2 separate regions of the Homo sapiens genome follow, and region 2 is linked to region 1. Evidence: fine-mapped QTL for protein levels in blood plasma. A gene starts in region 1. The other region holds a variant in brackets. All regions are shown on one strand. Distances are between the middles of the regions.

Region 1 (16,454 bases):
TTTGTGGTCATATACAAAGTCGTTGCCAAGATTAATGTCATGGAGCTTTTTTTTTTTTTTTTTTTTTGAGACGGAGTCTTGCTCTGTCGCCCAGGCTGGAGTGCAGTGGCGTGATCTCGGCTCACTGCAAGCTGTCATGGAGCTTTTTATGTGTGTTTTCTTCTAATCGTTTTATAGTTTCAGGACTTATATTTAAGTCTTTAATCCATTTTCCTTTGATTTATGTATGTGAGACAAGAATCCAATTTCAAGCTTCTTTATATAGATATCCAGTTTTCCCAATATCATTTATTAAAGAGACCCTCCTTTCACCATTGAATGTTCTTGGCATCTTTATCAAAAATCAATTGACTGTAAATGCATGAATCTATTCCTTATCTTTCTACTATGTTTCATTGGTCTAAGTATCTATTTTTATGCCAGTATGCTGTTTGAATTACTATAGCTTTGTAGTATATTTTGAAATCAGGCAGTGTGCTGCTTCTAGCTTTGTTCTTTTTGCTTAAGATTGCTTTGGCTATTCAGGATTTTTTTGTGGTTCTATATGAATTTCAAGATTGTTATTTTTTATTTCTCTGAAAAATGCCATTGAAATTTTGATAGGAATTACATTGAATCTGCAGACTGCTTTGGGTAGTATAGACATTTTAACAATATTAATTTTTCAAATTCATAAATATGGGATATCTTTCAATTCCTTTGTCTTCTTCAATTTGTTTCATGGTTTTCAGTATATAGATCTTTTATCTTTTTGGTTAAATTTATTCCTAAGTGTGTTTTTTTGTAGCTGGTATAATGAGATTATTTTCTTAATTTCTTTTTCAGATAGTTTGTTGTTAGTGTATGAGAAACACTGCTGATTTTTGCATGTTGATTTTGTATCCTGTAACTATACTAAATTCATTTATTAGTTCTAAAAGTTTTTTTTTATGAAGTCTTTAGGGTTTTCTACATATAAGATCATGTTTTAGGGTTTTCTATATATAAGATCATGTTGTCTGAAATCATAGACAAGTTCTTGTGATTTGGATGTCTTTTATTTCTTTCTCTTGCCCAATTACTCTGGCTTGGATTTCCAGTACTGTGCTGCATAGAAGTGGCAAAAGTGAATATCCTTGCCTTGCTCCTGATCTTACAGGAAAAGCTTTCAACCTTTCACTATTGACTATAATGTTAGCTGTGGGCTTATGTATATGGCCTTTATTTTGTTGAAGTTACTTTCTTTCCACACCTGAGGGTATTATTCCTTCCTATTGCCTGAGGGCACTATTCCTTCTTTACCAATTGTTATCATAAAATTATGGTAAAATTTGTCAAATGCTTTTTCTGCATATATTGAGATGATTATATGGCTTTTGTCCTTCATTCTGCTAATGTGTGTATCACATTTATAGATTTTCTTATGTTGAACCATCCTTGCATCCCAGGGGTAAATTACACATGATCATGGTGAATAATCCTTTTAATGTGATGTTGTTGCTTTGTAGTTACTGTGAGACTTAGATAAAACATATAATAGTTATAACAGGCTATTTTAAGCTGATAAAATTTAACTTCAAGGATAAAAAAACTCCACACTTTTACTCTCCCTCCACATTTTATAGGTTTTTAATATTTTTCAGACTTTATGCTTTTGATGTTATAATTTACATCTTTTATATTGTGTATCTGTTAACTTATTGTGGTTATAATTATTTTTAATAGTTTTGTCTTTTAACCTTCATTCTAAAGATATAAGTGATTTATACAGCACAATTATAATATTGGAAAATTCTGAATTTGACTGTATTTTTATTTTTACCTGTGACTTTTATACTTTCGTAGATTTTCATGTAATTAATTAACATCCCTTTCTTTCAGCTTGAAGAATTCCCTTTAACATTTCTTGTAAGGCAGGTCTCGTGTTGATGAACTACCTCAGCTTTTATTTGTTTGGGAAAGTCTTTATCTCTTCTTTATTTCTGAAGGATGGGACTCTTGGTTGGCAGTTTTTTCTCTTTCAACACTTTGAATATATCATCTCACTCTCTCTGGGCCTAGAAGCATTCTGCTGAGAAATCTTGTGATAGCCTTATTGCAATTCTTGTCTGTGATATGCTTCTTTTCTCTTGCTGATTTTAGGATCCTGTCTTTGTCTTTGATTTTTGATAGTTTGATTATTATGTCTTGGTGTAGTCTTTTTTGGATTGAACCTGACTGGAGATTTTTAAGCTTCCTGTACCTGAATATTAATATTTTATTTCAGATTTGGGAAATTTTCAGCTAGCAATCTTTAAATATGCTTTCTGACCCCCTTTTCCTCTATTTTCTCCTTCTTAAACTACTGTAATGTGAACATTAGCTCTCTTTTTTAATTTTTAATTTAATTTTTGTTTTTATTTTTTGAGATGCAGTCTCACTCTGTCACCCAGGCTGGAGTGCAGTGGCATGATCTCAGCTCACTGCAACCTTTGCCTTCTAGGTTGAAGAGATTCTGCTGCCTCAGTCTCCCCAGTAGCTGGGATTACAGGCATGTGCCACAATCCCTGGCTAATTTTTTTGTATTTTTAGTAGAGACTGGGTTTCACCATGTTGGTCAGGCTGGTCTTGACTCCTGACCTCAGGTGATCCACTCACCTTGGCCTCCCAAAGCGCTGGGATTATGGCATGAGCCACTGAGTCTGGCTGAATGTTAGCTCTCTTGATGCTGTCCCATAAATCTTGTAGGCTTTCATCATTTCTTTTCATTCTTTTTTCTCCTCTCACTGTATATTTTCAAAAACCTGTCTTCAGTTCACAGATTCTTTCTTCTGCTTGATCAAGTCTGCTACTGGTGATTTCTACTGCATTTCTCACTTCATTCATTATATTTTTCAGCTCCAATTTCTTTTATGATTTCAATCTTTCTGTTACATTTCTTATGTTGTGCATTTATTGTTTCTCTGATTTCACCAAATTGTTTCTCTGTGTTTGCTTCAAAGTAACTGAGCTTCTTTAAAAACAATTATCTTGAATCCATTGTCAGGCCATTTGTAGTACTCCATTTCTTTTGGGTCAGCTACTGGGAAATTATTGTGTTTCTTAGGTGGTGATATTTTAATTTGGGTTTTCATGTTTCTTGCTGCCTTACACTGCTGTCTGAGCATCTGGTGGATCTGCCCCAATTTCAGGCTGTATGGGCTGACTTTGGTGGAGAAATACCTTCTTATGTGGAATAATGCGAGGATGCTGGCTGGGTGGGATGCAAAAGTTCTGACTTCAGTAGGGGCAAAGCTGTGTGGTCTCCATGCAGATCTGTCAGCTGAGGTTGGTGTTAGTGAATACTACAGGGATCCTTAGAGGCCAACACTGTGGGTATCTACAGTGGCAATGAGGCTGTTGAGGTTTTCAATTGTGACAAGTCCTCCATATCTCTTTTTTTCCCCACCTGGGAAGTCATGACTGAGGACATCCCTCTTGGAATTAGGTCTAACTTGCAGGCCTGCTCCTGGTGGTGGTGACACTGGTGTCTGATGAACAGTGCCCATGGAGTGGCCAAGAGCCAAGGCCTGAAGCATGGGCATGCATGGAGGGACCACAGCACCAGATTCAATTGTAGCAATGGTACCAGTGCCCAAGGCACAGGCATACTTACTATCACATTGATAATGGTGTGTAAAATGCAGGTACTTATAAAGCAGCTAAGGAGCCAGGGACTTTACTGCATGCATACGCAGAGCTACAGTGGCTCCAGGATCCAGGGTGTGGGCTAGCTCTCCTTGGTGGCTGAGCTGGTGACTAGAGCATGGACAGGCACAGAGAAACCTTGACTCTAGGACCCAGGGTGTTCACTAGCTCACTATAGTGGTGGCTCTGGTGTTGGAGGTGTGGGTGTGTGTAGTACAGCCTCAGAGACAGGGTCTGGAGCGCAGGTGTGCACATTACTACAGCAGCTCTGGAGTTGAGAATATGGGTTACCTTTCTACAGTGGCTGAACTAGTGTCTGGAGCAAAGACTTTCACAGAGAGAACTTGGCTTGGGGTCCCAGGGTGAGATCTAGTTCACAACAGCAGTGACTCCAGTGTCTGAGACATGAGGAGGTGCACTGCAGCCACAGAGCCACAGTCCAGAGTGTGAATATCTGTAGAGCAGCCACAACTTTTGGGGATCAGGAACACACATAGACTTGTGAGAGGTGGTAACCCTGGCCCCAGTCCTGGGGCAGTGCAACAATAGCTGCTTCTTGGTGAGGGGGTGTGAGGGGTAGTGCAACTGTGTTTCCCTTTTTAGCATCCTGCTATGGGAATGGCTGTTGGATAAAAGATGCCAGTGTCCTCTGTGGAGCAGGACACTGGGGGCCTCAGTGGCTCTGTGTCACATGACTGACACAGATAGCCTACAAATTTCTTTATTCGTAGCTATCTCCTGGTGTCTCATATATGCCAGTCTCACCGGTGATTCTTCTACATGGATATTCTTTCTTTTCTCCATTGTGTTGTTCCAAATTCTTTAACAGGCTCTTGAGCCCCATCCCCCAACTCCCCACCCTTGTGAGGGCTATTTTGGTTTGTGTATAACTGTCTATGTTTGTTTTTTTGTTGGGGCATAAGGCTGACATCTCCTACTCCACCATCTTGCTAATGTCACCTGCATAGGAATCTTTTTATGCTTTCCTTATATTCACTAAAATTTAACAATATCAAACTTAAAAACATATGATCAATTGAACTTATTAATATCAAACTTATTATAAATAAGAAACTACCAGGCTGGGCATGGTGGCTCATGCCTGTAATCCCAACATTTTGGGAGGCTGAGGTGAAAGGATCACTTGAGCCCAGGAATTCAAGACCAGCCTGGGAAATATAGAGAGACCCTATCTCTAGAGATTTTTTTTTTTAATTAGCCAGTAGTGATGGCACACATCTATAGTCCCAGCTACTCAGGAGGCTGAGGTGGGAGAATTGCTTGAGCCCAGGAGGTCAAGGCTGGAGCAAGCAGTAATCATGCCACTGCACTCCAGCCTGGGCCGCAGAGTGAGACCCTGTCTCAAAAAAAGAACCTACTAGTCTACATACCACACTTCCTCATCCCCATCTGAGACTATATATATTTTTTCTAACATGAGGCAATGCCAAAAAGAGGGGCTGGTGAGTGAAAGTAAGAACAGAAAGACATGGAGGCAAGTCTTATAGAATAATAGCCAACACTTAAACTTACACTTAACAGCGTGATAGGTATTGTTCCAAACACATTAAATTCATTTAATGGTCCTTACATGTCTATGTATTTGGTGATTATTATCCTTATTATTCACATTGCTGAGTGTATTATTCTGTTCTCATGATGCTGATAGAGACATACCCGAGACTGGATAACTTATTAAAAAAAAAAAGGTTTAATGGACTCACAGTTCCACGTGGATGGGGAGTCCTCACAATCATGGTAGAAAGCAAAAGACACGTCTTACATGGCAGCAGGGAAGAGAGAGAAATGAGAACCAAACAAAAGGGGTTTCCCCTTATAAAACCATCAGCTCTCATGCGACTTATTCACTACCATGAGAACAGTATGGGGGAAACCACCCCCATGATTCAATGATCTACCAGGTGCCTCCCACAACCTGTGGGAATTATGGGAGCTACAATTCCAGATGAGATTTGGGTGGGGACACAGCCAAACCACATCACTGAGGAAACTGAGTTATAGGGAGATTAGTAACGCCCAACACAGCTGGTAGGTGGTGGAGCCAGGCAGTCTGACTCTAGGGTCTGGACTCTGAACTGCATCATGCTGCCAAGAAGTTCCTCATTTTTTCCTCTCTCTAAGTTTCCCTTATTCCCCTACAGTCATTCCTTCAACAGCATTTCCTTCACCATCTTTTCTACTTCTACTATATAATTAATTTTTTCTTCTTGGTCCCAAATTCCAACGTGCAAATGCAGCCTTATATACCCTAATTCATCTTTACCTTTAGACTTTCTTCCAATGTTTCTACTTCATTCCATTTTAAATTTATCCATGAGATGCCTATTTACAAGCTGTAACCATCATGAAGTGAATGAAGAATAATACCTACTACTGTACAATAGAATTCCAAGAGTATAAATAGGAGTTATGGCTTTCTGACTTGAAACTAAATACTTGATACTTGATTTTGCTGTCTGAGATCAATCTGAAAAGTAATAATAATCACTAACATTTGTTGAGCATCAATTGTGGGCCAAGTGTCATTTCAATCACTCTGTACATATTAACTCATTTCATCCTACAACAACCCGGTGAGGCAAGTTCTGTTATTCTGTTTTACAGTTGAGGAAACAGAGGCATAGAGAGCTTAAGTAGTTTGCCCAGTAGATAGCCAGAAGAGGAGCCAGGATGGGTCTCGGGCAGTTTAACAGCACAGCTGAAGTCTTAACCACTATGCCAACAGCTTTTTGGTCCTACACATCCCATGGGAAGAGGAAAATAAAAAGGTATCTATTTGTATACCTTTTTATTTCTGATATAAGAAGCAGAATTCCTTTCACATGACCTATGTCTATTTAATACGTCATTTTGAAACTTACCAATAAAATTTCCCAAGCGCCAGAAAACTGTTAGTGGCTTTTTCCATTTCTCTCTATTTTTTTTTGTGCTACTAATTTTGCTTCTTTCCCTCAGAAGGCTGCCGGAATAGTAAACATTCACTGACATGTCATAATTACTGGAAAATGGGCACTGGAAAATCACATTGTAATTAATTCAAAGCATGTTTTCCAAATGTACTACTTTAAATTGGAGCTTATATCATAATCCAAGGAAACCTTTGTGTGTGTACTGTTCCCACATTGCTCAGCCTGGGATATCCAGGAGTAATTCACCTTGCGCCTGCCTCCAGACCATCTTCCATGGAAGGGGGTGACCCCTTGCCTCTTGGCAACCACTATTTCTAAGCTGCCAACATTACTCTTGCATTATCAACATTCTAACTTCATGGGAAGGGCTGTGGTGAGTTTCTGGAATGTGAATAGGAAGTTGTTTTTCTAAACAGCCTGACACTGAGGGGAGGCAGTGAGACTGTAAGCAGTCTGGGTTGGGCAGAAGGCAGAAAACCAGCAGAGTCACAGAGGAGATGGTGAGTTTATTTTTTTCTGCATGGGAAGTGGTTGAAGTGAGTTGGAGTGGTATGGAGTAAAGTCAGGCAGGTAAAGGTTCAGAAAGTGAGGAACAGCGATAGCCATGGAGTTTTATGTTGAATTGCCTATTAGATTTTGTGAGTACTTTTAAACTTGCTGTCCACTTTGACCCTCCCAACACCCTTGTGAGTTGAGGTTGCTATTTCTATTTTACAAATAAAGCCATCGTGGTTTACAGAGGCTGTGTTTTATCTAAGCTTCACTGTTAGGCTACATGATGTTGGGATCTGGGGCCTGTCCTCTGGCTCCGCAGCTGCTGTTCCTCCTACTAGAATTTATAGGGGCTCTCTGAGAATAGATCATGGTAAACCTGTCACCCCATTTTCCAAGACTGTACTTCTCTCTGGGATAAATGATGGAATAAATGGAAGACTGGGTAGGTGCCCTGGGACAAGCTTACAATTGAATAGTTTCTCATCCCCATCCCTCCCATTTCTTTCTGTGAGCCTATGAATCTTCTGGGACTGATCTGGAATATCCACATAGTTTCCTTTTCTGCCCTAAGACTCAATCTTGTTAATGACTCAGTTTCTTCTTCTATAAAATGGATATAGTAATAATACTCTATAGTTTCATCATGAGGATTAAATAAGATTTTGCTGAAAAGCATCCAGATCTGAGCCTGACACATAGTAAGTGATTAGTAAATGTTAGCCATTATTGTTACAATAAAAAGAAAATTCTTAGGAATAGTGGGGTTTAGGATTCAGGGAAGATCCAAGGATAGCTAGGCATTTTGAACTCAGCAATGTTATATGCTCATGGATAAGATGCACGTGGTTAGGCTACTTCTAATTCAGGGAAGATCCAAGGATAGCTAGGCATTTTGAACTCAGCAATGTTATATGCACCTAGATAAAATGCACATGGTTAAGCTACTTCCAATTTTCCTCAGACTTTCCAAGAGTATCCCACATAGTCCCAGGGTCCGAAATCCTGCAGTCTGTGGCTATGGAGGAACCAGGCAGGTCTCTGTTTTTGAGCACCTTTCTGTGGGACTCCAGAAAAAAGTACCGCATACACCTGATTCATCCTACTGCTTTGCTTTACTATAGCACACTTTTCAAGTACTTATAATGTGGGTTTCTGTGTTGGGGAAAACAGGAATAAGAGTATGATAAAGAGAAGAGGAAGGAGTTTGAGCCTGTCTTAAGTTTGAACCACAATGACCTAAGGATATGAATTACTTTTGTCCTGTCTTTTTGCATGTCATACTTCTGAATTGGTTAACTTAAATGAGCAGTTATTCCTCTCTTCCTTCTACTCTCCTTGGCATCCTCCTCTATTTCAAAGGTATGAACTTATTGGATCAGAGAGTTCTTTGAGATTTTGATGAAAGTTACAACTTGTCTTTCCCAGATGAAAGCAAAAACATCGACATAAACACCAACCTTTAGAGACAACCACAGGAGGTTCCCAGACCTCCATGTGGATCCCAGGGTAAGAACCCTTCTCGATTGCCTCCTGGGCTTTATGTTCAGAAGCCCCTCTCTTGGTACCCTGAAATTAGGCTTGAGCTCTACAGCGAAGTGCTAAGGCCCCAGCCCTGGAATGGTTTTTAATATTTCAAAGACAAGACCTCTTCCTTTTCCTCTGAGCACATTTGGCCCCAAAGATTCAGAAACCTCAAACTGCCTGTGTAAATTTTGCTTCAAGTTCAGAGAGTGGCTTTAATTAACTTTTAGGACCTGAGAAAATGAGGATAAGGTTTTTCTGGTGGGGTATTTTCAATCAGATAGATCTCAGAGGAGTAGCTCTTGATTGGGAACTTATAGTTAAATTGCACTGATGTTTGTCAAAGTTTTAGCGGGCTATGGCCGGGCTCAGTGGCTCATGCCTGTAATCCCAGCACTTTGGGAGGCCGAGGCGCATAGATCACTTGAAGTCGAGAGTTCAAGAGCAGCCTGGCCAACATGGTGAAACACCATATTTACTAAACTTACAAAAACTGGCTGGGCATGTTGGCATGTGCCTGTAATCCCAGCTACTCAGGAGGCTGAGGCAGGACAAACTCTTGAACCCAGGAGGTGGAGGTGGCAGTGAGTTGAGATCACACCACTGAACTCCAGCCTGGGTGACAGAGCAAGACTTGTCTCAAAAACAAAACAAAAAAAAAGTTTTAGTGGGCTAAGGAGCAGGTCTGGATTTTCGTCCATTTATACCTTTTAACCACCTTATGTGGCTTCCAGTCCTTACTCTTCTTTTCATTACCTGTTTTTCAAAATGCAACTAAAATAGTTCAGACTCTCCTGGGCTAGCCACCAGCTCTTAGAATGTGCATCTTCAGAGATCTTTAAGTAGAAGCTTATTGATCAAATCCTCAAAAATCAAAATGACTTACTACATAAAAAACTGTGTTTAGAAAAAACCCTGGACCTAAACCTAGAGAGTAGGCACACAGTGGTTTTATAAATGACATTCATTATATTGTCTTCAAGGTGTCTAATCTTTTTGATTAAAAAGTAAATCAGAAACTTCATGAAGTCAAATACAGAGCAAATCCTCACTATTTGTAGAGATATAACTCATCTCTGATCCAATAGACTTTTTAAAAAATTTTAAGTGTCGTACTTTATTTTTAATGCTAATATTTTACTCAAAATAATGGCAATTGGTAGTCTAAATTAAATATATGCTTGGATTCTAAGTGTTGATGTCCTGGGTCCCTTCTTGTCTATATTCATAATTTGCTCTTTGGCTTAGAGACAACCTCTTTTCTCACTGTATTTCTTTTTCCACCCCTAAGCTGGGCTACCAATATCTGTGCCACACCACTAACACCACCACCGTCCAGAAACATAAGGGAACTAATGTATTAGCTGTAATAGCTTGTAACATCTGGGCTTTGCTACCAACAAGTTGTATAGTTCTGCATCCTCAACAACTCTCATATTCACCTCCCCTATTTGCATTCCCACTGATGCCAGACCAAACCTGTCCCTCTTTAACTCTCACTGGGACCATTGCAATAGCCTCTTCTTTTGCAGTGCAATCTCCCTGATTGTAACTCATTTAAAAAAAAAAAAGTATCGCACTACTCTCACCCCTATAATATCAGCATTTTTGGAGGCCAAAGAAAAAGTATTGCTTGAGCCCAGGGGCTCCAGGCCAGCCTGGGCAATATAGTGAGAACTTATCTCTACAAAAAATTAGCCGGGTGTGGTGATGCATGCCTGTAGTCCCAGTTACTCAGGAGGCTGAGATGGGAAGATCACTTGAGGCCAGGAGGTGGAGGTTTCAGTGAACCCAGATCATGCCACTGCACTTCAGCCTGGGCAACAGAGCAAGACCCTGTCCCCCAGCCCCACAAAAAAAATCATACCACCATTAAGTGCATGTGTTCATGATACTTCTCTGTTCAGAAGTATCCCTTCTGCCAACTGGTATTTGTGACCCACAAGATATGGTCTCAAACTACCTTTTCAGTTAACCTCTAGGATCTCCCAATCTTCAGCAGGCTGGAGTGCAGTAGTGCCATCTCAGCTCACTGCAACCTCTGTCTCCTGGGTTCAAGCGATTCTCCTGTCTCAGCCTTCTGAGTAGCTGGGATTACAGGCATGCGCCACCATGCCCAGCTAATTTTTGTATTTTTTAGTGGAGTTGGTTTCGCCATGTTGGCAAGGCTGGTCTTGAACTTCTGACCTCAAGGGATCTGCCTGCCTTGGCCTCATAAAGTGTTGGGATTACAGATGTGAGCCACCGTGCCCAGCTTCCGTTGGCTTATCATTGCACTTAGAATAAAATCTCATCCCCTTGTTTTGGATCCCAAAGCCCGATGTGATCTGTCACTACCCCCGGCTCGTATTTTTCTCTCCATTGCTCATTCCATTCTGGCCACACTAATGTCTTCATGTTCTTTGAACACACTGCAGTTTGCTTCCACCTTAAGGCCTTTGAAATAGCTTTTTCTTCTTCCTTTAATGCTCTTCTTCCTGCTTCTCACTGGCTGGTTTCTTGCAGTCATTCTTCTCTCCACTTAAACATTATCTCATTAAAGAGGTCTTCCCTGACGTTCCTGACCAACATAGTGACACAGTCATTCTATCACATAAGTTTCATTTCCTACCTAGCACTTATGGCTATATTCTGTTAATATTTTTCATGTTTACTTGTTTAGTACTGTTGTGTAGTTATTAGTATTTGTTTCATTGTCTTCTCTACCAATAGAATGTGCATTCTATGAGGACTGGAATTATGTCTGTTTTCACCATTTTATTTGTTCACTTAGCTATTATCACTACTGTAAAAGTAATGCATTCAGTTATAATTATTATGTATTTTTCCAACATTTTCTTATTTAGCATATTTTTGTCTTACTTTCAGTTATTCCTCTGCCATTATTCATTCATATATTTATCCATAAAATGTTTATTGAGTATTGAGTATGTGCCCTACCATGGCTGGGGATTCAGACCTGAGTAAGTAATAGTCCTTGCCCTTGAGAAGCCTCTGTCAGTAGCTTCCTCAGCTGTATGCTCACATGTTTGTTGCGCATTTAAATTGTGGACCTCCTGCTCAAGAGAATATTCAGAAACGGAGATGCTGATTAGAGGACATTGGAAACAGATGACCATAAGGAGGTCATCTTTACTTCCCAGGAAAGCAGAAGAATGAGAAGAGAATAGGGCCATGGAGGTGGGAACCTAGAGAAACACTTACCTCTGCAAGGGAAGGCAGAGGATTGAGGTAGATTCAGAAGAAGACTCAGAAAAGTTTCTCAAACATTAGAGCAGAAGAACAACAGAAGAGCTAAGGGAAGCATTTTAGGCAAAAGGAAGTAGTGGTATTTACTGCTACAGAAAGGTCAAGGAAGATAAGGGTGGAAAGTCTTCATTTGGTTTGGTAATGAGGATGTCAGCAATGAAGTTTGCAGGGACACTTTGATAGGATGGTCGGGCAGTGGGCTGGAGAGTAAGGGGGAGGCAAGGAAGTTAAGAAAGTTTAGCTATAAGAGGAAGGAGAGAAACAGGCAGATGTGGGCAGGAGGACAAAGGGTCAAGGGAGGGACATTGTTTGATTCCGCCTTTCTAAAAGCACAAAGCTGTGGTCTACAATGTAGACAAAAAGAACAAGATCTCCTTTCTGTGGCACTATTCTTGCCAACTTTGTAAGCCACCTGGAACGTGGCAAGCCATGGGACACCTACTAGCCTCTGGTACCTCCTTGTGTGAAAAGTTAGGTCAAGGCATTTGCTTCTTCCACTTTCTCTCTGCTTTTCTCTTCACCCTGCAATCATTATTAGTTTTTTTGCTTGTTTGTTTGTTTTGTTTTTTGAGAAAGAGTCTCACTCTGTTGCCAAGGCTGGAGTGTCTCGGCTCACTGCCACCTCTGCCTTCTGGGTTCAAGCGATTCTCCTGCCTCAGCCTCCCAAGTAGCTGGGACTACAGACATGTGCCACTATGCCTGGCTAATTTTTGCATTTTTAGTAGAGACGAGGTTTTACCATGTTGCCAGGCTGTTCTCGAACTCCTGACCTCAAGTGATCTGCCCACCTTGGCCTCCCAAAGTGCTGGGATTAGAGGCATGAGCCACTGCACCAGCCCAGTTCTTTATTAAAGTAAAATTAAAGATAATCATGGTACTTAATGAAGGCTTACACAGGCACAGGATGTTATTCTAATGACCCAGTCTCTGACTCCTTTCCAGCAACTTCCAGTTGAACCAGCCTTCCAGAGAACATTAAAGACTAGCAGAGCATGTGGATGCTTCTAGAGAGGAATTTCCTCTTGTTTTAGTATTTAACTTGCTTAGTAACACAGGACAGAGCAGCATCCTGCAGACTATAATGCAGAGTAGGAGCAGGTATGAGAAGGCCTGCCCACCCCAAGCAGGTTTCAGAGGAAAACTGTTACTCAAAGAAGATTTTTAAACATCATCCATTCTCCATACCTCCACACAAAATCCCTATCAGTTGCCTTACAGTTAACACAGAATCTTGAACTTGGGCCACATTAAACATGGACAGACTTAGTAGGTCATGAACCATCTGAGATTCTCTAAACTACTGCAAGCATGCATTTGTTTTGAAGAAATCTGACCACGGCTTTTATCAGATTTTCAAAATTCATAAGCCCTGGAAGAATAAGAATAACTGTGTTAACCCTATGCACATTCATGTGAGCAAGCTTGGGCAAATCATTTACGCTCACTGAGTCTCAGTGGTGGGGAGTGGTGGCTGCCCCATCTTAGGCATTCGAAGTCTGAAAGACTTCCTGCAGAACAGCAGATAAATGCTAAGTTGGCTTGGAAGTGACCTTTATGTTCTCCTATAGCTCTGAAATAACCTGTAAGAGGTGAATCTTGGTATTTGGTGATGCATAGAAACAGAAAAGTATGTCAGATTAAAGCAGGGGATGCACACTGACTTGCATTTTCCTTTCTTAGATGTTGTGCCTTCATCAAAAGCACTGTACCAGTCCTCTAAAACCTTCAAATGTTTAAAACAAGTTGTCTCGCTCTCTCTCACTTTGTTTTATCTTGTGTGGTAGAGAATTTGCTGATGAAATTTTGCTTAAAAAAAGTTCAAACAAACAAACAAACAGGTTAAAATGGGAAACATCTCTTTTTGGAAATTTTGTTTAAACCAAATCTTATTTAAAAGTTTAAACAAACAAGTCAAAGCAGGAAACAGTGGGTAGGGTTGGCCACTGTGATGGGAGACTGGGAGCCTCACCGACTCCTTCGCCCTACACACTCTTGTGAGCTGGCCCCAAAGCCAGGGAAATCCCTAGAAATACTCTGTTCAGGGAGAAAACCACTTCCACAGGAAGAGTACCACTAAATTTAAAATCGTTGCACTCCTTCTGCAATCTGTCTGAATAGAGCAAAGCCCAGGTTCAAAGGCAAGCACTCAGGTCCCCTTCATGAAGGCTGCAGAGTTGTGCTCTTCAGCAGCAATATTTTTGCTCCTATACCTCCAAAAATATCCTGGAACACTATGTTACCTCTTACACCTTTCTAAGTGGAAAGCTACAATTTTTTATCCCAAATTTTAAAAGCAAAAGAAGATTGGATTTTCCAGTGTATTACAAAAATTAGACTGTAAAAATAAAATTGTTACATAATTTCTTAAAGTTTATCCAATGGAATAAAGTACTAGCATGATCTGCAATCCTCATCACTTAAAAGACCACAAGCAGGCTCTTAAGAAATTTTATATTATTCATTTTTCTCTCCTTGAATAGTTATTTCTATCCCACTTCTACAGTATTTAGCCTAAGATTACACATTTTAAGCTTAAAGTATTTTCTTGATTATTATACTTCTTTGCAAAATAAAAATATAAAATTTCAATTTTCTACAACTGTAAGTCTCTATGTGTTAAAATGTTTTTCTTTTCTATTGAGTTAGCATGACAACTACTTTCAGTACACAATTAAATAAAGTAAATATACTGCAAGTTTTGACAAGTAACTTAAACCTTTATATTTAAATTGCTATTAAAGATTCATCTCTAAGACAGGAGGAGCTTTCCCTCATTTGTTCATATATCCATGAATGAATATTACTTATCAACAAAATTAGACAAGTTTGGCATCAATATTATTCCCATATTTCATTTTCAAGGATTTAAACATTGAGAAACTTCATTCATATGAATAAGTAAATGGAATTAGAAGTTTTATTATAGCAATGTCTCAATTCCTTGAAGTCCTTCCAAGTTATATGCCCCAAATTATATAGTGATTTACTATCAAAATTTAGTCAGACTTGACAACTTAATCGGGTGCTCCCTCAAAGCTGATGAAAGGAAATAAATGGAAATCACTAGACTTGAAAACGGATTTGCTGCAATATCATTTACAATATTCAAATTCTTAATACCTATACCAATATTTCGAATCATCTCTGGCATACGAATGTATTTATATCCAAAGGCAAAGCTCTGGAATAAATAAGAAATTAGTAAAAGGTATAATTTTTCTCTTATAAAGTGGGAGAAAGGTGTATTTTAGGCAGATTGTTTTTAAGAAAGTATATATGTGAAAGTTGAGAATCTGAATACAGATTTAATTAACACTCTCTTTGCTTGTGAACCCCTTGGGAAGTCAGCCTTATCCTGGTTTGAAGAATTCCACTTCAGCATTTGGAATGGTGCATTTTGAAATGTGATAGGAAGAACAGCTTGTGACACAACACAATTCAGAGAAAGCAGTGGGGTTAGGTTCGCACCAAAGGGTTATCGATCACTCTGCATTTTGTGCAAATAAACAGCTGTAAATCATAACGTTATGATACTCTCAGTGTTTAATCATAGGTCCTGCAGAGATCAGCAGCTTATAAGAACACAAAATATGCCTACTTACCAAAGTCAAGATTCAGAAGCTCCCAGATGAAAAGTTCTAGGCTTATGAGATAACTCTACTCTCTGGGACACATTAACTGGTTTGAGTTGAGTTCTCCCTGGTATCTGGTCAGGCTGTAGTCAAAAGTGCATGAACACATGCACACACATGACCCCACACTGTCCCATGCACCCTACTGGGCGTGACACATACACAACCCCACACTGTCCCATGCACCCTACATAATCCATCACTGGGCGTGACACACACACACACACACACACACACACACACACAACCTCACACTGTCCCATGCACCCTACATCATCCATCACTGGGTGTGACACACACATACACACAATCCCACACTGTCCCATGCACCCTACATCATCCATCACCAGGACATGATACATGAACACACACACAACACCACACAGTCCCATGCACCCTACATCATCCATCACTGGGGTGTGACACAAACACACACACACACAACTCCACACCATCCCATGCACCCTACATCATCCATCACTGGGGCATGACACACGAACACACACACAACCCCACACAGTCCCATGCACCCTACATCTCATCACTGGGGTGTGACACACACACACACACACACACACACAACTCCACACCATCCCATGCACCCTACATCATCCGTCACTGTGGCATGACACACACATACACACAGAACCCCACACTGTCCCATCCACCCTACATTATCCATCACTGTGGCATGACACACACACACACACACACACACACACACAGAACCCCACACTGTCCCATGCACCCTACATCATCCATCACTGGGGCATGACACACGCATACATACACAACTCCACACAGTCCCATGCAGCCTACATCATCCATCACTGTGGCATGACACATACACACACACACACACACACACACACACACACAACCCCACACCGTCCCATGCACCCTACATCATCCATCACTGGGGCATGACACACGAACATACACACAACCGCACACCGTCCCATGCACGCTACATCATCCATCA
Region 2 (7,964 bases), 38 kb after region 1:
CCCAGTGACTGTGTAGGTAATCACCCCTCCTCTTCAGTGTTCAGTTTGTGAAATGAAACCTTTTGCTTCGTTATAATCTCTGTTTAACAGACCTTGAAGTTTCAAAATGTTTTAAACTGGGAGTTATTTCATGCAGATTTCTAATTTATTATCTCAGAAGACCTTTGCTTACCACCTAACTCTAAAAACCTCCTAGCAGATCTTCCTTAATTAAATTCCATCTGTTTGCAAGGTATATTTCAGCCCCCTATTTTTTCCCCTCATAGCTTGTCCTGACTGCCTTTTGTTACATAACTGAATCTTTGCCAAAAAATTATGCACAGTTTATTTTATTTGCCTAAACTTACATGTATAGGCTTCTTATGTCTACAATTTAATTTCTTTTATTGGGACCTTACCCTAATTCTTTTGGAAATTACAGTTTATATTTAAGTCTTAGGAATAAATTAAGGCCCCACTTTTATTTTATTTGCCCATACTTACATGTATAGGCTTCTTGTGTCTACAATTTAATTTCTTTTATTGGGTCCTCACCCTGATTCCTTTGGAAATTACAGTCTATATTTAAGCCTTAGGAATAAAATAAGGCCCCACTTCCCATTCTGTTGCAGTGGATTTATGAATTCCAGATCTTCTTTCATGTTAGCTTGTCAGCATTCCCAGGACCTTTGGTGATCCTACTTGATCGCACATCTTAGAGTTCTTGAAAACTTTCTGGGAGAGAAAGACTAGTCTTTTGCATAATACACTTCTTATGTCTTGCATGTGTGTGTGTTTGTTTTGTAGCAGGACCATTGACTATCCAGGAAGCCCTGACTTACTTTGGTGGAGCGGTGGCTTCTAC[G/A]ATAGGTCTGATAATGGGTGGGACGCTCCTGGCTTTGCTAAGAAAGCGTTTCAGACAAAAAGGTAAATAGGAAAGAGTCTTCTCTTTGCATCTTGGTTACATAAATCAAAAGAAATTGATTTATGTAATTTAGGGTGGGGAGGCAAAAACCACAACTTCAGTAGTTCATGTTGGAAAACATTTGCATTAAAAGAAAATAAAGCCAAGATAAGTGATCTTGAGAACTGATTGTCCATTAGAATCACCTAGGGAACTTCCTAAAAATATAGATCCTTCTATGGGGAGACTTGGTAGTGGGTGTGGAAATCTGAATTTTTCAAAAGCTCTCTCCCAAAATTCAAATGAGGCTACTTTGCAGTTTTGCATTTGGGGCCTCTGGTCTAAGTACCCTAGGCTATCACTAAAGCTAATTAGAAAGGTGTTATGCTTCCTGACTTCACTCATTTCTTCATGTAGCAGTCATTTATTCATCAACTCTGTTAGAGTGTGAGACTCATAATGATGGTTTCTGATATTAAGGAAGGAAAAATCCAGTAGGGGAGACAGGTGAAATCAGTGCCGGTAGTGAAGTGTAGTAAGTGTGTTAGGACACAAATACAACCTAGGTATTATTAGAACATAGACTAGGGATGCCTAAACCAGACTGGCAGGTCAGAAAGCCTTTTTCAAGCTTAGCTTTGAAGAATGAGAGGCATTTAGCCAAGGGGAAAATGGAAATAGAGTTCCATCAGAGAAAATGGCATGTAGAAAGACATGAAAGTGTAAAATCAATGAGAAGATGGTATGTTTCGCAGTTCAGTGCATCTGAATCAAAAGGGGATTATGGAGGAGGCAGGAGATGAAGTTAGGGGCAGAAGAAGCTGCCCCTGTATTGGTGACCTGGTGTGATAAGCTAAGAGATTTGCTTTTTCTCCTGAAAATTTGTAAAGTTGATGCAGGATTTAAACAGAGAAGACCAAATAGATGAAAACTCTCTGTAAGGGAAACTGTGTTCATCAGACTGTTCATCAGAAAAAGAACTTTAGTCTAGGAATTAAAGATGGGAACATCCCATCTCTTAAGGTTTAAAACATCCTTTCTCAATCTTCTCCAGACACTTAGCCTGCCTATAAGTTCATAAAGTTTTGTTTATAACCTAATGGGGCTCTTCTTCATCACTCCTCATAGAAAGTAACTGGGGGCATCAGAGAGACCATTAATTGCTCAAATCAAGGTAATGGAAAGTGGCTATGTTAAAATATCTGAAAGAGATCTCATTGAATTTCTCTATTGTTGACATAGGTCTCAACACCTATTCTTAACTGCTCAGAGGCAAAACCACGTGTTCCTTACTCTTATTCTTTCTCCATTTACAATGCTACCAAAACATTGAGGCTGTTTTTCCAAATTTCCTTCATATACTCTCCTGTGAGTGGCTAAGACAATAGACAAAGGTCAATACTCTGCTTCAATACCAAAGAGATGTACTGAGAGCTACAGTGAATCCCTCCATGCAAAATGTGTGCTTGCTCAACCAAACCCAGAAGGCAGAGGCAAGAGCTCCTAGACCTTAATCTCTATGATCATGTAGGAATCACTCTAATCTTGATGTTTCCCCCAAGTCCTTTCTTTGACTTTGAGACATTTCCAGAGGACCCTCTAACAGTGGAGAAGGACAAATGGCCACTCATGCCCCAATATTTTTAATAATAAATACATTCATTTGTTGGGGATGGGAGCTTTTTTCCTCAGCTTCTCCCAATTTGATTTTAGGCTTTGAAGTTTTCTATGGCCAAATAAGAGGAAAATGCTGCAGCCATAGCTGAAAATTCAACTATGAGAGTCTGTTATTTGGATAAAAATATGCTACCAGGGAGGAAAAACATCCACTGTTCTGTTGGTTTGGATTCATGTATGTGATTAGCTTGCTCAGCTAAGGGCTGAGGGCAAGTGACACAAGATGCCCTCAAAAGAAATTGATTTATGTATTTACTGAAAGGAAGGAGGAAGAAAGTGACAGGACTCTGGAGTTAAATATTGTCGAATGTTTAATTTAGCCTAAAACACTTTCTACCTTTCAGGGAGAAACTGTTCCCAATATTCCCCTTATAATGAGCCCTCCTGAAAATCAGTCTACTGGTTTTCCCCAGTAATTTCTATCCTTAATGACCCTCTCTTTCATCTTGTTTTTTTTTTTTAATCATTCATTCTTGTCTTCTTGCTGATTTTAGATGATGGGAAATGCCCCTTGAATCCTCACAGGTAAGGTAGAAATGTTTTATGATTGAGTAAATTTTGCTACCTTAACTTTATAATTCACTGTAATATGTCAGAATGATTACATGCAATGCCTGCCTCCTTTTTACAATGTCTTTTGCAATGTCTTCTTTTCTACTCTGAAGTAAAATACACAGATAACAAATATTCTAATTAAAATATAAAGTAGGAATAAAATGAAAAGTAATTTATAATAAAAACAAGATGCAAAAACTTAGGCGCTGTGCCAGTAGATGCAATGAGGTCATCAGAAGCGTGCACCTTCCACAGAATCACTAGGAAAGCAACGCCCACGCAGGTGGACTGATGGGGGAATGTTGTATTAGTGACTCAAAGAGCATTAGAACTGTGGCCAACACCAGCCTAATTTTTCAACATGGTGAACAACTCCGGTAAAGAGTCTGAAAACCTGTGATAATTGTCCTTTGATTCATATGGCAATTGCATTTTAAAGATGCAAAAAAATGCTTAATATTTACATGTAAAGTGCTTGAGTTCCAGGCTCAGAGATTTTTAACCTGTATGAATATCGAGCAGATATTCCAAAGTTATGTGGGATGTTGGACAATTCTTTTGTGTCCTGTACCCCTTGCTATTTATAATCTAGCAATAGTTTTCAAAAAGGGACAGTATGCCCCCAAGGGTATTTTTTTATTTTTGTAATGAACAAGAGTTCTACTGACATTGAGTGGGCAGGAGGCAGGGGTGCTGGATATCTTTTAAAGACATTTCCGTCCTGGAGGACATGGAAATCCTTATATGAACTCTATTGTCGTAGACATCCAGCACCCTTGCCCCATACCCACTCAATATCGGAAGAACTCTTGGTTATAAAAATCAAAAAACACCCCTAGGGGTCATATTGCACCCTTTGAAAACTATCGTTAGATTATCAAGTGTTAATGCCAAGAATTTTGTAACTACCTCTTGTCACCTAGAAGAGGTTGCAGCAACTTAGAGGGTATAACAGGTATTCAGTACATAAAGCATGAACAATAACTTAGTGTGGGTGCAAAATGCAATGCAAATTACCCAGAGCTGGTAAGTGGGATATCGAATATTTCTTTGGCATTTATTTTTCTTTCCTTTCTAAAGCAGAATTCCAAGGGTGGATGGTAATTTGTGGTTTCTGGAAATACTATGTGTTGGACTGTGTTGTCGAGAACTAAGCAGTATATTGTTGCCATCCTTGTGTTTCTGTTCTTTAGCCACCTAGGAACATATGGAGTTTTTACAAACGCTGCATTTGACCCGAGTCCTTAAGGTAAGATCCCTATAAAGATATTTTTGAAGGAAATAGAACACTAGGGAAAAATGGAAGACTATAAAGCTTAACTTTTCTTTACATAATCATATATTAAATTTTAAGTATGTATTAAATTTTCAGGCATGAAGGAAATTGTGTTGGCAGTAGGACACAGGTATGACAATGGAGTTACAAAAGAGTTCACAAAAGGATTTTCATTTCCTCCAGGACAGAAATGTCCTAACAAGACATAACTTATTTCAGGATGTGTAACATTTCCATTATTAACTGCTAGGTGGTGATGATGTGGCCTTGCCTGCAAAGCAGAAGTCAGGACTGCTGAAAAATGTTTACGAACTGTTATGGAGTCAATTCCCTATGCTACCTGCTGGAAAAACAAAAATAATCTGATGCTATCCCTCTCCCAAAAAGTGGGTAGTTGAGTGTCCTACAAAAAGCCTGAATGGCAGAATATTCGAAATCTAGAAAGAAAAGATTATGCTGCGCCTCAGGGTGTAGATATGATGAGCAATTTTTTTCTTTCTTTTATTTTTTTAAGGAAATGATAATTATTTAAATTTCTTTGGTCTCATTTCCAGAGACCTGTCCTTTTCCTGGTCTCCTCATTCAGCCTCCATATGATCCTGTTGTGAACATCAAGTTTCCTGCTACACTGGACTTAACTATAATGCATTTGCTGCAGGTTTCCATAAACACCCATGAATCAAAGACATGGAATTACCTTAGATTAGCTCTGGACCAGCCTGTTGGACCCGCTCTGGACCAACCCTGTTTCCTGAGTTTGGGATTGTGGTACAATCTCAAATTCTCAACCTACCACCCCTTCCTGTCCCACCTCTTCTCTTCCTGTAACACAAGCCACAGAAGCCAGGAGCAAATGTTTCTGCAGTAGTCTCTGTGCTTTGACTCACCTGTTACTTGAAATACCAGTGAACCAAAGAGACTGGAGCATCTGACTCACAAGAAGACCAGACTGTGGAGAAATAAAAATACCTCTTTATTTTTTGATTGAAGGAAGGTTTTCTCCACTTTGTTGGAAAGCAGGTGGCATCTCTAATTGGAAGAAATTCCTGTAGCATCTTCTGGAGTCTCCAGTGGTTGCTGTTGATGAGGCCTCTTGGACCTCTGCTCTGAGGCTTCCAGAGAGTCCTCTGGATGGCACCAGAGGCTGCAGAAGGCCAAGAATCAAGCTAGAAGGCCACATGTCACCGTGGACCTTCCTGCCACCAGTCACTGTCCCTCAAATGACCCAAAGACCAATATTCAAATGCGTAATTAAAAGAATTTTCCCCAAATGCCGTGTTCCTCTATTTTATGGTTTGTTCAGTAAGGTCTGTATACATCACATTGTTTACCATCAGTGTAATAACACACAATTATGGTTGTCCTATTTACACCTCAACCATTCATTCAGTCAGCAAATATGTATCGCACACCCTACACTGCAAGAGAAAATCAGAGAAATGGAAAAATTCTTCATCACCTTAATATTTTACAGGGAAGAACAAATGTGTTTTACATGTTCTTTAAATCCCATGTTTAATAAATAGGTCATTGAAAGTTATATAGTATTTATCTGGAACTGATGTTAAAAAAAATAGAGAGCCAAAAATTATAGTAGTCATCTTGTCTCTGTAAAATGTAATTAAATAAATATGTCATGTACACTGTATATACATAAGCAAACATGCAAATAAAAAAGCAGCCTACTCAAAGGTTACAATAATGTTGCAACAATTCTGGTAGTAACCTTGGGATTTAGGGACACAGTGCTTTCAAAACGTTTCTCTGATACACTGCCAGTAGCATCTCTGACTGCTTATTTAAATGTCAATCAGTAGGCTAGGTGTTCTAGGACTTTGGTCTCAACCCTGTTTCCTGAGTCAGAATCTACATTTTGTAAAAGTTCCCCTGGGAATTCTGATGGTCTGCCAACTTTGGGAGACACTGATAATATTGTAGATAAAGAAGTGTAAGCAACTGTTCAGTTAGGGAGACAATAGATACCTGCATGGAATAACAAAAGGTAATTAACATGATTATATAATTTGAATAGTGTTGTAATAGTTCATAAAATGGAAAAGCCAATTTGAGCCCAGAATCTGGGAGATAGGCAGAACTCTGGACTGTAAAGAATGGCCCAGCAAAGAGGAAGAAAATGGGCATTCTAAGTTGGTGCAATAATATCAGCACAGGAGAAAAGACAGAATATTGGGGGGAGTGGGGAGGGAGGAAGAGGCTGTTGATGAGCCTGATATCATTAACAGAGACCTCATGTGAGGTGCCAGATTACAATTTATTGAATGTACTGAATGCATAAAGCATAAGACAGAAACCTGGAGCCATGCAGATACAGGGAACCCAGGACAAGTCATTATGATGCCTCAGACAATATAATTCGCAGATTCTCTATCAATAGCAAAGTAAGATTTAAGGTGCTGTGAAACAGTCAGATCCTTCAAGAAAAACAAGAATACAAGGGGTCCTGGAGACAGGAAAATATGATCATAATAATAAATTTGTGATTCCTTCTTTCTCTCTTTTTCTCTTTCTTTCTTTTTCTTTCTTTCTTTTTTTTTTTTGATGGAGTTTTGCTCTCGTTGCCCAGGCTGGAGTAAAATGGCATGATATCAGCTCACTGCAAACTCCACCTTCCAGGTTCAAGCAATTCTCTTGCCTCAATCTCTCGAGTAGGTGGGATTACAGGTGTCCACCACAACGCCCGGCTAATTTTTTATATTTTTAGTAGAGAAGGGTTTCACCATGTTGGCCAGGCTGGTCTTGAACTCCTGACCTCAGGTGATTCACCCGCCTTGGCCTCCCAAAGTACTGGGATTACAGGCGTGAGCCACTGCGCCTAGCCTCTGTGTGTTAAGTGCTGGAACTATAGTTTACAGTAGCATTTTATCCTCCCAACATACCCTATCAGGAAAAATTATTATTGTCATCCTTATTTCACAGATGTCAAAACTGAACAGAGAGGTACAGTAACTTGCCCAAGACAACACAGCTAGTAAGTGAAACTGAAATCTGGACAACTGATTTTTTTCAGCCAAGCTCTTCAAGCCCGCTGCTATGCTGCAGCTTAGCTGGCGACAGGCCCTTATCAAGGCAGAACTGTGCCTTGATAGAGGCCAGGAAGGCGATTCAGAGCAGTAGGCCTTGTCCATGTGTTTGTTCCCTGCTTCTTCACCACTTGAAAATAGTGTTTCAGTGCCCAGTAACAGGGCACAATACTCTTTTCCTCAGATTAAAAGGGGAGCCATCTGCTTAAGGTGGTTGGGTGCCACTGCACTGCACAGAAGGTTCTCCAAGTGTGAGCTTGGACCCAGGCAGGCCTCAGGTCAGTGGTAACGGACGACTGCTTCCGTGGTGTTGGCAGGTGGAAATGGAGGGATACAGCTTTGTCCGGCTCATGAATCCCTGGGCATTGTCCCGCCTGCTAGAGCCTCTGATCTCTGCCCCTTCTTCACCTGCAGTAAAACAGTCACTAGTTTGGTTGCTCTCCCTAATACCTCTGGTCACTGGGAGCTGTGATCTCACCAAACCCCTGCCAGGAAAAGCCCCAGAAAAAGCGGAGGGAGTGAGAGCCAGAGG

The links. PIP is the posterior inclusion probability: the model's chance that the variant is causal. Sun 2018 read protein levels with aptamers (SomaScan).
Region 2: its variant is fine-mapped to the plasma level of the SELP protein (Sun 2018, PIP 0.95). The variant lies in the coding sequence of SELP. If it changes the protein, the assay may bind it differently, which can mimic a change of level.

What each region holds. Positions count from the first base shown.
Region 1 is chr1:169,620,693-169,637,146 of GRCh38, reverse strand. It overlaps SELP (selectin P), which reads left to right and starts at 7,023. Exons shown (of 17, transcript NM_003005.4): 1 at 7,023-7,075. The coding sequence starts at 7,073.
Region 2 is chr1:169,586,547-169,594,510 of GRCh38, reverse strand. SELP (selectin P) reads left to right here. Exons shown (of 17, transcript NM_003005.4): 14 at 787-906; 15 at 3,055-3,085; 16 at 4,309-4,364; 17 at 5,050-5,662. The coding sequence ends at 4,363. Among named protein-coding and RNA genes, the nearest start is that of F5, 4.0 kb to the right of the region's middle. RefSeq lists an enhancer at 7,555-7,964. The variant G/A (reference allele first, on the strand shown) is at 845.